4 linked regions of the Homo sapiens genome follow. The protein of the gene in region 1 purifies or fractionates together with the protein of each later gene. This does not show direct contact. Each region holds a gene or a part of one and is shown in the gene's direction. Other genes may lie near its edges.

Region 1 (3,500 bases):
CACTTTCCCTGCCCTAAATCCCTCATTCTCATTTCTTTTTCTCCAAGCAAGCCACGAGGGCTTAAGGAAGCAGAGAGATCAGGTCTCAAATTCTGTTGCTTCTGCTTTCAGGTACAGATCTATGAGCTAGAAGAACACAAGATAGAAACTTGGAGAGGTATGTAGAGAATTGGGGTTATAAAAGGATAAAGGGATGGCGGGTTTCTGGGAAACACTTTTCCATGGTGGTATTTTGTGACCCATCCCTTTTCCCTTCAGAGGTGTATCTCCAGGACTCCTTTAAACCGCTTGTCTGCATTTCTCCTAATGCCAGGTGAGTTCCAGTTACCCATCTGTCCAAAAAGCGGAAGAGATTTTGTCATCAGCCTAGCTAATGCCCTAGACACCCAGGGAAAGGGGAAGAAGAGAGAAAAGACACACACACACACACACACACACACACACACACACACACACACACACAGTCTCTCTCTCTCTCTCATTCTCACTCTCTCTCTCTCTCTCTTTCTCTTTAAGTCTGGCCTGTACACTGCCCCCCTTCCCTAACCATCAGTTTTCCCTGTTGAGCAATACACTGTATGGACCTGTTTAATCACCCCCAGCCCCAGCACTGTGGAACTTATTATCTCCCACCCTCTCACAGCTTGTTTGATGCTGTCTCTTCATTAATTCGGAACAAGATCCACAGGCTGCCAGTTATTGACCCAGAATCAGGCAATACTTTGTACATCCTCACCCACAAGCGCATTCTGAAGTTCCTCAAATTGTTTGTAAGTGCTCCTCAGCCCAGTTCTTTTTTCTCTTTTTTCATTGATTGATTGATTGATTGATTGAAAAGAGAGACGAGGTCTCACTGTGTTGCTCAGGCTAGTGTCAAACTCCTGAGCTCAAGTGATCCTCCCGCCTCAGCCTCCCAAAGTGCTAGGATTACAGGTGTGAGCCACTGCATCCAGCCCCACTTCTTATTTATTTATTAATTTATTTTGAGACAAGTTCTTACTCTGTTGCCCAGGCTGGCGTGCAGAGGCGCTATCATGGCTCACTGCAGCCTCCAACCTCTTGGTCTCAGGTGACCCCCGACCTCAACCCCCAGAAGAGCTGGGACTACACGTGTGTACCACCACACCTGGCTAATTTTTTGGTATTTTTTATAGAGATAGGGTTTTGCCATGTTGCCCAGGCTGGTCTCGAACTCCTGGGCTCAAGCAATATGTCCCCCTCAGCCTCCCAAAGTGCTGGGATTATAGGCATAAGCCGGCGCACCCAGCCCTTATTTCTAATATACTGGGTTGGAGGGGGTATCCAAGGGTGGCTTTGGGTGCCTTGAAAGTTAAGCTGATGGTTCTTTCCTCAGATCACTGAGTTCCCCAAGCCAGAGTTCATGTCCAAGTCTCTGGAAGAGCTACAGATTGGCACCTATGCCAATATTGCTATGGTTCGCACTACCACCCCCGTCTATGTGGCTCTGGGGATTTTTGTACAGCATCGAGTCTCAGCCCTGCCAGTGGTGGATGAGAAGGGTGAGAGATTGGGCAGAAGGAGAGGGAGGGAAGATCCAGGCAAGTCAGGGTGGCTCTGGGAAGATCTGCTTTCCCCTCAGCTTAGCCAGGAGGGTGATTCTATGAGTAGGGGGAGCTTTAGATCCCAGATCCTCCTTACTGAGCTGCCTCTGTCCCCCTAGGGCGTGTGGTGGACATCTACTCCAAGTTTGATGTTATCGTGAGTGATTGTGGAGGGTCTGGGAGGTAGGGAAGTGGTGGGGGGGGGGCACTGTTAAATATGGAGAGGGAGAAGGGAGTCTCTTCTGTGATCTAAGGGTCTTAGAAGCTTCCAGGCTTTCAAATCCTATTTGAAAAGGAATTGAATGAGTTGGGTGTGGCTTGTGGCTGACAATTGCCCTGAATCCCTCTGTTGAGGTTGGATGGGTTCAGGGTTTGGAGGCTGGCTCTCTTGCTTCCCTGCAAGCTCCTTCCTCTGTCTCCCCAGAATCTGGCAGCAGAAAAGACCTACAACAACCTAGATGTATCTGTGACTAAAGCCTTGCAACATCGATCACATTACTTTGAGGGTGTTCTCAAGTGCTACCTGCATGAGACTCTGGAGACCATCATCAACAGGCTAGTGGAAGCAGAGGTAGGGAGGCCAGCAACCCTAAAGGAGCTGAGGGGAGCAGCCTTGAGAGTGGGGTTTGGCAAGGAGAGTAGGGGCAGAGGGGCTTCCCCTGAGGCCAGCACTAAACATTCCCTTTCTCCCTTGTTGCTCTGTGCCAGGTTCACCGACTTGTAGTGGTGGATGAAAATGATGTGGTCAAGGGAATTGTATCACTGTCTGACATCCTGCAGGCCCTGGTGCTCACAGGTGGAGAGAAGAAGCCCTGAGCTGGGGGAAGGGGTCATGCAGCACCAGGGGATATGCCCAACTCACTGCCTGCTGGAAGCTCTGTGGGAATCAGATGAAACTTGAGGGAATTGTGACTCTGTTCCCTGTTCAGGGTCCCCTGCCCTTCTATCTGGGAGCTAGGGAAGGTATGGGGGAGGAAAGAGAATGGATTTATAGCTACCCTTACCCTCACACATACACTTGAAAAAACTTTCAGCCTAGCCAGTTCTAGCCCCTGTCCTCTTAGATATATCCCCCTTTCTGGGTGAACTATAGGCTCTGTGCCTCTCAGACAAATTCTGATCTCTAAGAGATCCCCAGACCTCACTTGCCTCTGCCTCCATCTTGGCCCTGATTCAACCCTAAGATAATAGCACAACAAAATTCTTCATAAAGATATTTTTATTCACCTGTTCCGTGCTATATGGAGGAGGCCAAGTCCATTTAGTGACATTTCTTCCCATAATGTGAGTGGGGAGGATTGTGGGGAGGAGGGGCTTTGGGTTCCTGTGTTTGTGCATATGAAGGGAGATGGGGGTTAGGTGGAGGAGGAGAGCAGCGTGGTTAGCTAAGGTTATTGCTTTTTGTGGCAAATCTAATTAAATGACAGGAATCTCTTCACGATATTGCAGTGTTTGATTTTTACAGTTGATGGGTACTACCTTCCTACTTTATATGGCTTCTTCAACTGGTCATTAACAATAATAATAACGTGTGTACGCACACACACACGTACACACACACGAGTAGACAGACTTGAGGGTCTCCTTTGGGCAGAGAATCCTGCCACCATTATCAGCTTTTCTTAGTTGGGGAAGGTTGGACTGTTTGGCTTTTGCTGAGTTGGCACTATCTTTTTTTTTTTTTTTTTTTTTTTTTTTGAGATGGAATCTCACTCTGTTGCCCAGGTTGGAGTGCAATGGCGCAATCTCAGCTCACTGCAACCTCCGTCTCCCGGGTTCAAGTGATTCTCCTGCCTCAGCCTCCTGAGTAGCTGGGACTACAGGCGCGCGCCACCACGCCCAGCTAATTTTTGTATTTTTTAGTAAAGACGGAGTTTCACCCATATTGGCCAGGCTGGTCTCGAACTCCTGACCTTGTGATCTACCTGCCTCAGCCTC
Region 2 (3,991 bases), on another chromosome or scaffold:
CACGGCACCAGCTGCTTCCTGTGGAAGGGAGGGGCAGTCTGTGGGGGTTGTGACGGTTCCCTGGTCTCAGGGGCAGCAGAAGCTTTCTGTCCTTTTGGTCCCTAGCACAGTGGTGCCTCCTCAAAGAGGCCTTCCCTGAGCCGCCAGCAGCCTCTTTCATGGCTCCCCATCAATGGGGTTCCATAGCTCCGACCCCAGCGGCGTGAGCACATTTGCCATCCGACGGCCACTCCCTGCTTTGTGGTCCCTGCTGTGTCCCCAGTATTCAGCTCTGGTCTGGCACACAGCATGTCCAGGGCCCTCTTTGTCCAAGGCAAGAAAGAATTTGAGGCTGCGTCCAGGCCTCTTGCACCTGCCTCAGGCTCCCGCCCAGAGCCTCTACCTGTGCCCCAGCGAGCATTCTCTGCTCGCTGCTCAGAATGCTCGCAAAGGCCGGCCCTGGGGTCAGAGGCCTCCACAGCCCCTGGAGCTGGGAAGCCTGGGGGTCCACCGGCAGGCACGGGGGTCTCTTTCCAGGTAGGTGGGAACGCGTGCTTGTGGGTGTGGACAGGTGTCTGCACTGGGGTTTGTCTGTGTGTCTGTCTCCACTCACACCGGGGATGTATGTGCCCCTGCGTGTCTGTCTCTGGTGCCCACCTGTGTGCAGTCTCTGTGTTCTGCCTAACGGTGGTGTTCCCGTGATAACCGACGGTGAGGATCTCCGGTAAGCGCCGCTTCCTCTGGGAAGACGCATTTGGACGCCCGTACTCTCAACAGGTAATGGAGTTTGCAGGAGACCACCAATGCCTTGGAGTCCACTGAGGCAAGACCCAAGGACCCCACGCTACACATCAGCCACCCGGCTCTGTGCCCCATTTTACTGTTGGGGAGACGCACCTAGAGGGCAGGGTCTGGAGAGGTAGTGGCAGCCTCAGTCGCAAGCTCAGGGTGCTCTCTCTGCACTCACAGGTGCCATGGTCCCCCAGTTTCCATCCCCACCCACCCCCACTCGGCCAGTGCCCTTTGGGGGCAATGCCAGGCCAGGAAGGGCGGGCACCCTCGCGCGTCCTGGGGACAGAAGGGCGCGCACCGGGCGCGTAGCTCCTGAGCCCCGAGGCCCCTGCGCCGCGCACCGCCCCCCGCGCCCGCTCCCTCCTCCCTCCCTCCTCCTCACCCAGCTCCCTCCCCTCCCCCCTCCCTCCCTCCGCGCTCAGAGCTGCGGTTGGAGCCGAGCGCGCCGCGTCGCCCGCCGCCGGTGCAGAGCGTGGGGAGCACTCGGCCGCAGCCCTCGCCCGCCGCAGAGGGTCGCGTCCCGCGCCGCCGGCCAGGCCGCCCCGTGCCCAGGCCTTTCCATCCTTGGAGCGGATCGTTGCCCGCCTGACGCCCGCCCGCAGCGACAGCGCCCGCCGGAGCCGAGGCCGCGGCGGCGGCCGTGCCCATGCCCGGGTAAGTGGTGCTCTGGGCGCGCGGGCGCCGCCGGGGTGGGCGCGGGCGCGGCGCGGGCACAAGGCGCGGGTGGGGATGGGAGGATGACCCGGCAGGTGGTGCGGCGGCAGGTAGGGGGACACGGGTCCCCGCCCGAGGCACCTGAGCCCCGCGCCGGGCCTGCGTGTCCTTGCGGCACTGCGGCCGCGCGTCACCCCGGGGCCCCAGGCCGGCGGGCAGCGCCCCGCACCCTGCACCCTGCGCCCCGCATCGCGCGCGCACGCGCATCCGTGTCTGAGGAACAAGGCCCTTGGGGGCTGCGGGCCGGGGCTCAGGGTGGGCGCAGCCGGGGGCGCGGGATCTGGGCCGGGAGCCCGCCAGTGCGCACGCACCTTCCCGGAGCCTCGGGCACCCCCTCCCCCCCGCGCCCTCACACTGTATCATCCTTCCCCTCTCGCCTTCCCGCACCGTTCCCCGCACGCCCACGCGGCTGCCCAGCAGACCCCACCGCGGTCATGGGCAGTGCCCACGAGAAGCCGCCCGGGGCCGCACTTAGGTAACTTCTCCATCCCTCCAGGAACGGCTGTCTCCCCCTCCTCGCCTGTGTGACCTTGGCCAGCCAGCTTTTCCTGTGGCCGCCTGCGTTTTCTCACGGGTGAAAGCTCTGGCTTTAAGATTCTGGAATTTGGAATGGCAGGTGCGGCATCTCCCAGAGCCTGAGACGATGGGCTTCTCTCTCTGTGACCTGGTGTCCTTCCTTCTGCTGGCCCTTCTGGGGGTTGGTGGCTCAGCCAGCCGGCTGAGGAGGGGTGGGAGGCAGGGCAGGGGCATGGCGCCGGGGCAGGTCAGGACTGGAGGGAGTCTTGGAGAGCCCGCGGTGAGGGCTCCATGAGGGTTTAGGAGAGACTGTGGAAATGCTCCTTCGCTCACTCAAGGGGCAGGGAAGGGACCAGAATTCCTCAACGAGATGCTTGCCATTTCCTGGCGAGGTCATATAACTTTCAAAGATGAAGCCCAGGGCCTCCGACCTCAAAGGAGTCCCTGCCTGCTAAAGGATCAAGTCCAGCCTGTCCCCAACTGGCCCCCATCCTGAATTCCACTGGCACCCTAAACGTCAGCCGACTTCCCCTGGCTGACTTGGGCACCAGTCTGGCAGGCACCCCCTGCACCTCCTCCCCTCCTTTGCCCACTAGGATCTGTGCCCTCACCCCCTGCCATTGCCCCTCACTAGTCAGTGACCATCTTAAGGCAAGGACTGGCTCTTCATTTGCACAGGCCTGGCACAGAGTGGGCACCTGGTTTCTGCATGGCATATTCATGACCTTGACCTCACTGAATCTGCAGACTCACTGAACAGGAGAGGCAAGGCCTGGATTTTTGTCCCCATTTTTCAGATGGGATCATTGAGGCCCCCAAGAGGAGAAGGGATTCAGCCCTGAATTGAGGCCCCTTCCTTCATGAGCAGATGGCTAGGGACATTCCTATGAACCTGGTGGGGCAGGGAGGCGGGGAGAGGTTATCGTAATAATCAAAGACCAGCCCCACTTCCTGAGCTCCATCTGAGTCTCACCTCAACCACACGAGTGAATGGCTGTTTTCATCCCCAACCCCCACCCCCCGCCGCCACTTTTCACAGATGAGGAAACCGAAGCCATGTGGCTCATTAAAGGGGCACTGGGATGCCGAGGAGAGGGCTGGGGATGCCTGGGCCCCTGTGGGACACAGCTGAGACCCAGCAGAGGGTCCCAGGGTGAGGTCAGCCCCTCAAGTCTGCGCCATCGGAACGGGCTGGGAACTTGTGGTCCCCGGCCATTGATTGTCACTGCTGCAGGCCCCGAGGCGGGGGACAGCCAAGGACACAGCCAGTCTCCATCAGCTCCACCTGGGCCGTGCCCTGCACGGCCAGGTGGTTTGAGTGCAGGAGTAGGCATGCTCTCACACAGCAGGGGGTAACGGGCAGATGGAAGTGGGGCGGGCGTGGGAGGGGGCCTTGCACAGGGCCAGAAGGAGAGCCGGTCCCTGAGGAAGGAAGCCCCTAAGGCAAAGAGCATGCCAGGGGACAGCCACAATGCCAGGTGATGGAGATGCCCCAATCGGCCCCCGAGGGGCAAGGAAGGGGCCAGAGGAGGCTCGTGAGGGTGCCTGGGGCTTCAGTGACAGCAGCCCCTTACCTGATGGTCTTTGTGACCTTGGCCAAGTCCCTTCTCCATTCCAGATCCAGGGAGGGTGGGGGTGGGCCTGGGGGAGCTGGAGCTTCAGAGGTTGAATCATTCACTAGCAGGAGAAGCCAAGCCTGTGAGTCAGTGAGTGCTCTCCATCCCAGAACGTCTGCTCCCAGCCCAGGGATGCAGCCACGGAGTGCCGGGGTCAGCCGTGGAGGACCCTCTGAGAATGTCTTGTGGAAAGGGGCGCCTTGCCTGCCCGGTAGACAGGATGAGGGCGCCCCAGAGCCCCAGGGGCTTCTGAGAGCTGAGTACCCTCTGGGCCTCTTGCAGCCAGCAGAGCCAGGCAGAGCTTCTTCTGGCCTTTTCACCTCCTCCCCCACCTCACAGAGCAAGTCATCAGCACATATGAACTCCCCTCTGAT
Region 3 (4,184 bases), on another chromosome or scaffold:
TCCATTGGGGGAAGGACGGAAGTAAACAAGGGATCACAAAGCAGTGATAAATGCTGTGATAAGAATACACATCTAGTGCTCGAGTTATCAAGCATTAGATGCTGTGGGAGTACAGAAGGGCAGTTGCCTAAGTCTTTAAGGATAGGCTTGTGGTCAGGACTGAAAAATGTTGGTTGCTAGAACCATCAAGTGACTGCAACATATCAGATGACTGTCTTCATCATACCGGTTAGCCTTTGAGTGCTTCACATGTCTTATATACATTACCTTGCTTCACAACTCTCCTGGAAGATAATGGTCATCCCCACTTAGAGATGAGGAAACACAAGGCCCAGAGAGGGATTACAAGCCAAGCCTCTTACTCCCATGCCCTGGCTCTTTCCAGAATTACACCAGCATTCCACCACAGCTGCCTGCACCCAGAGTGTTGGGTATGAATCGGGTACAACTGGTGAGATCCAACAGTGCCTCATCATTCGACTTGGGTGCACACGGGAGAAGGTGGCATTAAAATCCACAGGGAACTCAAAATATGGAGGCAGGTAGATGAAGATTCAAGAGTCAGGACTCCCTGTGAAGTGAGTGACACTTAAGAGGGGGAGTGGAGCCCAGATCTGTCACACATACGGCGTGGGGGACCCCACCTACCACTGGTCCTCAGCACCTGGAGACCCGAGCCTTCAGCAATCTGGGAAGCATGAAAGTGGGTTTCGGTGCACAGGGCCACGCCTCCGCCGCCAGCAGCCCAGCGGGAGCGTCTGACCAGTCTCGCCCTCCGAGAGGAGAGAGAGGCGGCCCAGGACGGTCTGCTTAGAGGCTCTCTCCCCTGCAGAGCTGGGCCCAGGCATAGGTCAGACGCCTCCAATACAGTCCCCAGGGCAGCGATTAAAGCGGAGCAGGAACTGCAGACCCGACCGGGCAGGACAGGTGCAGCTTCTCGGAGTTGGGGGCGGGAAGTCTCGGGCTGAGGCCCACGTGCTTCGCCTTCGCCCCGCCTCTACCCTCATTGGTTGAAGCCAGATTGAGAGGAGGTGCCAGAAAAAAAACTCCTCCCTCCAACCTCATTGGCCAGCTCAGTTCTGAGGCAGCTCTCTGGCCCCGTCTATGGGCTCGCACTACACTCCAATTGGGTGGTTGTTCTCCCAGACGGAAACTCCGCCCCACCTGTACCTTGGACCGCTCCGCCCTAGGGGCGGTTCCAGCGCGCTTCGCTAATCGGTTCTATGCTCCCATTGGTCTGCTTTAATGTGAAGGGCGGGTCCTAGCTGATTCGCTAGCCCCGCCTTGCGTTCCTATTGGCTGCTCCTGCTCTGCGGTTCCGATCCCGCCCAGCACCGTCCCCCACCCCCCGCCGCCCATTGGCTGCGAGAGGCCGGTGCGGGCCGCACTCGCAGGGCCCGTGGCGGTTCAGGCGCCAGAGCTGGCCGATCGGCGTTGGCCGCCGACATGACGCCCGAGGACCCAGAGGAAACCCAGCCGCTTCTGGGGCCTCCTGGCGGCAGGTGAGCTCCGGGGAACCCGGGCCCGGATGCGGCCTCGCCCTCCCGCCCCTCCGCGTCCGCTCCGCTCACCCTCGGCCCTGTCCCCCCAGCGCGCCCCGCGGCCGCCGCGTCTTCCTCGCCGCCTTCGCCGCTGCCCTGGGCCCACTCAGCTTCGGCTTCGCGCTCGGCTACAGCTCCCCGGCCATCCCTAGCCTGCAGCGCGCCGCGCCCCCGGCCCCGCGCCTGGACGACGCCGCCGCCTCCTGGTTCGGGGTGAGGCCCCGGGCTCGCTCCTCCCGCCCTGGGACCCCACGCCCTCCTCTCGGGACGGGCATCGGGACCCTCCGCCCCCCACCCTTCCCCTCGGGACAGGCATCGGGCCCCGCCGCCACCACCTTTCCCCACGAGACAGGCATTGGGCCTCTCTGCCCCCCATCCCTTCCCTCGGGACGGGCATCGAGCCCCTCAGCCCCCACCCCTCCCCTCGGGACGAGCACCGGGCCCCTCAGCCCCCTACCCCTCCCCTCGGGACGGGCGCGGGGCCCCGGCTCTTTTACCTCTGAGCCCGCGGGGAGTGGGTGGAGGGGGAGGATGGGCTGCGGCTTCGGCGCCCCCTCCTCAGCAGCCGCCCGCCTCCAGGCTGTCGTGACCCTGGGTGCCGCGGCGGGGGGAGTGCTGGGCGGCTGGCTGGTGGACCGCGCCGGGCGCAAGCTGAGCCTCTTGCTGTGCTCCGTGCCCTTCGTGGCCGGCTTTGCCGTCATCACCGCGGCCCAGGACGTGTGGATGCTGCTGGGGGGCCGCCTCCTCACCGGCCTGGCCTGCGGTGTTGCCTCCCTAGTGGCCCCGGTGAGTGTCCCGTCTCTCGAGTGTCCTGTCTCGCGGCCTGAGACCGAGGGGGAGTGGGACAAACCGCTCCCCAGGCCTGGGGGCGCGGCTCCCCCTGGCGGGACCTTCTGGGTGCCAGGCTTGAAGTCCCTGCGTTATCTCGCGGTCCCTCCCGTCGACCCTGGGAAGGATCCTACTGTTCTCTCCATTTTACACTGAGGTCATGACATGCAGTCTCGGAAAGGTGAAGTCCTTTGCCCAGGCGAGGTCCACAGCTAGTCAGAGGGGAAGCAGTTGCAGGAACCCAGGGTTGTCCCACTTAGCCGTGCCCCTCTTTTGCTCTGCAAACCTGCGGATGATCCACAGGAGCCCACTCCCTACATTTTGGTTTTCATCCCTGGCTTCGGGTCAATGACTGCAATTAGCAGGAAGTTCCTGTCCTGATTTCTCTTGGGGCAAAGGCTGCTGGCCTCTGTGTTCCCCTTCCCTTCTCACAGGCCAGCCCCTCTGGCTTCCCCATCTTCCCCCTTTCCCCCTCCTGACCCAGGCTGCCCACTTGGGAGCCCCGAACATCTGGGTCAAATCCTGGTTCTGCCACTAACCTGAGCAGAGTGCCTCCCTGGGCCTCAGTTTCCTTCTCTGGAAAACAGGGATTATGGCATTAGCCCCTGAGGTAGTGGTCAGGATTCAGTGGGACTTTGGATAGACAGCCCCTGGCATGGCTTGTAGAGGACTGGATCCTGACAGCTTGGTGACCCATGAACTGCCCCCAGCCATGGGCTTGGACAATATCTCCCCCAAGTGAGGTTGAAAGCAGCCACTCAGGCCCCTCCCTGGGTGCTCATTTCACCAACGTTTGCTAACCGGCAGCAGCAGCTGGACCAGAAGAGGGTGGGGAAGAAGCTGGGCCTTTTATGTCTTTGGTTTTTTTAACTGGGCAGAAACACACCTGTGTTAGGGGCCTAAGCTATGGAATAACCTTAGATGCATGGGTGAGGGCCTGGTGGCCTGTGGGCCCAGGAGGGAGCTAGTGGCAGCCACTGGTAGTGACCGAGGCAGAGAGTTCGTGCTTCTAGTCCAAGGCCACCACTCAAAGCGTGGGCCCTGGGCTAGGATCCTGGGTGGGCGTCACGTGGAGCTGGTTAACAAGGTGGAATCTTTCGCCTGTCCAGACCTACTGCATCGGAATCTATGATTTATCCAGGGTGTCTGTGCACATTAAACGAAGGCTTGAGAAGCTCTGTGCCCACCGCCTCTCGTCATCATATGCAGCCCTCTCCGTTACCCTTAATCCCCTTTAAACACCTGCCACAGATCTTTCAGTGGTGGGGACCTGGGGATGGCTCTGCTCACCTAGGCAGGTTCCACTAAGGGGCTTCAGGGCCTGCCGTAACCCCCTGCAAGGACTTTCCTCAGCTCTGAATGGCTGAGACCTTTCCATTTTAAGAACTCTTGGAGCCTGAGTAAAGCCTCATCTTTTTTTTTTTTTTTTTAATTTTTATTTAAAAATTTCGGAGTTTCGCTCTTGTTGCCCAGGCTGGAGTGCAATGGTGGGATCTTGGCTCACCGCAACCTCCACCTCCAGGGTTCAAGTGATTCTCCTCCCTCAACCTCCTGAGTAGCTGGGATTACAGATGTGTGCCACTAGGCCCAGCTAATTTTGTATTTTTAGTAGAGATGGGGTTTCTCCCTGTTGGTCAGGCCAGTCTCAAACTCCCAACCTCTGGTGATCTGCCCGCCTCGGCCTCCCAGAGTGCTGGGATTGCAGGCATGAGCCACTGCGCCCAGCCATAAATCCTCATCTGATTGCTGGCAGGTCTACATCTCCGAAATCGCCTACCCAGCAGTCCGGGGGTTGCTCGGCTCCTGTGTGCAGCT
Region 4 (3,500 bases), on another chromosome or scaffold:
TTTTTGTGGGTCGTGCCTTGGGATATTTGAGTGGCTCTGTGATTGGTGGATTTCTTGTCGATGTCATGAATTATTTTTTACTTTTGGGTAAGTAAATGCTAATTTTAGCTTCTTTATGACTGTCAAGTGAATTTACAAGTTGTCTTTGAAAATATGAAAATACTAGCATGCAGAATGGTTGGCCACTGAAATGGGTAGTGTTTAGGTGTCCTCAATGGCAGTTGAGTTTCCCTGGTACCTGCTTTCATCTTGACAGTTAGAGGGTATCTGTGCTGGGTCCCTCTGGAAATTTAGATTAGCTCTAGAGTGTCTTAGCAATCCTTAGCCTTTCCAACCACTATAATTTAGCTACCACTCCTGGATCACACACTGGTTGTCCAAAAAACTCTGCTTAGAGGGTTTAGGGCAGATTTCCTGGGGTCACCACAGATCAGAATGAGCTCTTTGAACCTGCCCAGGCTACACCCTGGATTGGGAATGAAGAGGGGAAGCGAGGTTGGGTGGACTGATGTAGGCTATGTTTTTGTTCCTGCTGCCCCATGTTGTCGTTGGACAACCCCAGAGTGCTCTGTCTCACCCTGGAAATAGATGGCAAAGCTGCTTTTTTTTTTTGAGACAGGGTCTCCTCTCCCTCTATTGCCCAGGCTGGAGTGCAGTGATGCGATCTCTGCTCACTGCAACCTCCCCCTCCTGGGCTCAAGCGATCCTCCCATCTCAGCCTTCCAATTAACTGGGACCACAGGTGTGAGCCACCATGCCTGATTAATTTTTGTGTTTTTAGTAGAGCCGGGGTTTCACCATGTTGCCCAGGTTGGTCTGGAACTCCTGAGCTCAAAGGATCAGCCTCCCAGAGTATTGGGATTACAGGTGTGAGCCACCACGCCTGGGCTGGCAAAGCTTTTAGCATATACTTTTTTTGAATAAATTGAAATATTTAGAGAAAATTTAGATTAATATGATAAAATTGTTTTGGAAGCAAGAATAATTTGTTATTGTTAAGGAATTAATAAATAATCCCTCTTATTTCCAAAGTGGGTTGAAATAACATATTTCTTGTATTTTCCTCCCTATTTCCCAAACTAATTTATTTAGTAAATTTTATTACAAACTACTCTAGTAATTGCATTTTATTTTTGTCTATTTAATTTTTTGCCTCATGTCTAAAAATTCCTGTTAGGTTCTTAAATGTGAATCATTTAAATTAGTTTTGGCTTGTCTCTTTTGGTATAAAACTTTGCCTTATGGTATAATTTACAGTTTGATTACTAGCAGTGCTTTAAATGTATTTGTGTTATAATTATTTATATTTCATAATCCATAAAGATTATAAAAGATTCAAATGAAATAATCACTTTTAGAAGCAAAAACTCTCATCTACTCATTATCTAATTTAAATTTGACCTGATTTTGCATGTTTGGACATTTATGATATTGACTTGATCCATGACTGCATGGATATTATTTTTTATAGCTGAGTTTCTACCTTCCCAGGAATCTCAATGTCGGCTACCACCGTTGGTCTTTATCTTGTTCCTTTTTGCAAGACAGCAATATTACTCACTGTCATGATGTCTATCTTCGGTGTTTCAATTGGCATTCTGGATACAGGTTAGTGAGCTCTTCAACGTCATCTCTGGGAGTAGGGACTTGCTAGAAGAAGTACAGCAGATGATACTAAACTGTCACTTGCAATGCCCCCTAAAATGACACAGACCTACTGAGTTGGTTGTGAGTCACTCAGAATGAATCACCCTTCTAGCAGCTATTCTTGCCAATTAGGGGGCCTGTTTCTGAGCAGCCAACTCTGAAATGAACTTAAAGAATTTTGTTCTATGAGAGATAATTGATTTACATTGTCCAAACAGGGAAGGGCCCCTGTGTGGGTAATTACAGTGCAGGTGAATAGGCCTTCATCTTGGGGTAGAACTTTATTGCTCTAGTATGGGAGGAATTGGTGGTTTAATAGGTTAAACCAAGTTTGGAACTGTTATTTGGCTGAGAAAGCATAGAAGCAGCAATCCAACTTGACATTTACCCTGACTTCCAAGCCAAGAGAGATCCATAGTGTGGACTAGGCTCTTTCTTTTTCTTTCTGTCCTCAAAGTTCCTGGCCTCCTGCAGTAGATTCTTTCCCGTATCATCATCATGTCTTTTAAAACTTACTAAATAGGCCGGGTGCGGTGGCTCACACCTGTAATCCAGCACTTTGGGAGGCCGAGATGGGTGGATCACGAGGTCAGGAGATCGAGACCATCCTGGCTAACACAATGAAACCTCATCTCTACTAAAAATACAAAAAATTAGCCGGGTGTGGTGGTGGGCGCCTGTAGTCCCAATTACTCGGGAGGCTGAGGCAGGAGAATGGCATGAACCCAGGAGGCGGAGCTTGCAGTGAGCAGAGATCACACCACTGCACTTCAGCCTGGGTGACAGAGTGAGACTCCATCTCAAAAAAAAAAAAAAAACCTACTAAATAACGGCGGGGTGGCTTACGCCTATAATCCTAGCACTTTGGGAGGCTGTGTCGGGCAGATCACCTGAGGTCAGGAGTTCAAGACCAGCCTGACCAATATGGAGAAACCGCGTCTCTACTAAAAATATAAAATGAGCCAGGCATGGTGGCGCGTGCCTGTAATCCCAGCTACTCAGGAGGCTGAGGCTGGAGAATTGCTTGAACCCAGGAGGTGGAGGTTGCAGAGAGCCACGATTGTGCCATTGCACTCCAGCCAGGGTCTCAAAAACAAACAAACAGAAAACCTACTAAATAACATAGATGACATCTGTTTACTCCTAAAACCAGCTTTCTACCCCTCCCTTCCCTGCTTTGCTGTTACGTGATCTGTTGAGGAAATATTTTATTTTACTTTAGGGTTAATTTTGTTATGAAATTATAGGGTAGAATTATATATTTATCTGAAAATATCTGTTGAAAAAAAAGAAGATAGCTCAAGATGTGCTGCTTCTTGCCTTTCTCCTCCTAGACGTTTAGACAGTATAAATTCAGATGCTAAACGGTGTCCTTGTTTCCTCTAATGGGCATACCAGAATCCTGGCTATTCAGGTTCCTGGACGTGTGTTTTGCATCTGTTACATACATAAGTAAGTAATTTTCCTCAAGTGGCTACCAACAGCAAGTACAGAAAGCTTTGGTAATTTGGCTACTATCTGATGATAAAATTTTGCCTTTTAAATATATATTTAAAATATTAATATATAAATATTTCTTCTGCAGTCTGATGTTAGAACTGTATTATAAAAAGCGTCTTGCTAATGTGCTTGGTTCTAGGAGGTAGTAGTCTACTAGACTGTAGAATTCGATTTGTGAGTATGTGATGTTATAATGCTTAGAGTTGTCTGGTGGTAGTGGGTTAGAATTCCTTTCTCAGAATTGATTTAGTTGCAATGTTTGATAATTAGAATATTATAATGCTTGTGCTATGTAAAATAGACTCACCCCCTTTCTGATAAGTGAACTTTTTTTTTTAATAAGTAAGTAACTG

The links. The genes of interacting proteins can lie anywhere in the genome.
Region 2: the proteins of PRKAG1 (region 1) and ATP2B3 purify together in Homo sapiens (affinity purification with mass spectrometry; 3 studies listed by BioGRID and IntAct, with this or other methods). This does not show direct contact.
Region 3: the proteins of PRKAG1 (region 1) and SLC2A8 purify together in Homo sapiens (affinity purification with mass spectrometry; 2 studies listed by BioGRID and IntAct, with this or other methods). This does not show direct contact.
Region 4: the proteins of PRKAG1 (region 1) and SLC60A2 purify together in Homo sapiens (affinity purification with mass spectrometry; 3 studies listed by BioGRID and IntAct, with this or other methods). This does not show direct contact.

The regions. Positions count from the first base shown.
Region 1 is NC_000012.12:49,001,777-49,005,276, reverse strand, and holds the end of PRKAG1 (5'-AMP-activated protein kinase subunit gamma-1), read left to right. Parts: intron 1-111; coding exon 112-157; intron 158-258; coding exon 259-313; intron 314-643; coding exon 644-770; intron 771-1,354; coding exon 1,355-1,520; intron 1,521-1,681; coding exon 1,682-1,719; intron 1,720-1,986; coding exon 1,987-2,133; intron 2,134-2,270; coding exon 2,271-2,378; 3' UTR 2,379-3,003; downstream 3,004-3,500. UniProt on the Homo sapiens protein: AMP/ATP-binding subunit of AMP-activated protein kinase (AMPK), an energy sensor protein kinase that plays a key role in regulating cellular energy metabolism.
Region 2 is NC_000023.11:153,516,451-153,520,441, forward strand, and holds the start of ATP2B3 (plasma membrane calcium-transporting ATPase 3), read left to right. Parts: upstream 1-1,191; 5' UTR 1,192-1,425; intron 1,426-1,981; 5' UTR 1,982-2,101; intron 2,102-3,991. UniProt on the Homo sapiens protein: ATP-driven Ca(2+) ion pump involved in the maintenance of basal intracellular Ca(2+) levels at the presynaptic terminals. Uses ATP as an energy source to transport cytosolic Ca(2+) ions across the plasma membrane to the extracellular compartment.
Region 3 is NC_000009.12:127,395,785-127,399,968, forward strand, and holds the start of SLC2A8 (solute carrier family 2, facilitated glucose transporter member 8), read left to right. Parts: upstream 1-1,384; 5' UTR 1,385-1,446; coding exon 1,447-1,502; intron 1,503-1,591; coding exon 1,592-1,754; coding exon of another isoform or gene 1,755-2,120; coding exon 2,121-2,327; intron 2,328-2,387; exon of another isoform or gene 2,388-2,529; coding exon of another isoform or gene 2,530-2,550; intron 2,551-4,122; coding exon 4,123-4,184.
Region 4 is NC_000006.12:111,262,339-111,265,838, forward strand, and holds part of SLC60A2 (sodium-dependent glucose transporter 1), read left to right. Parts: coding exon 1-87; intron 88-1,491; coding exon 1,492-1,608; intron 1,609-3,500. UniProt on the Homo sapiens protein: May function as a sodium-dependent glucose transporter. Potential channels for urea in the inner medulla of kidney.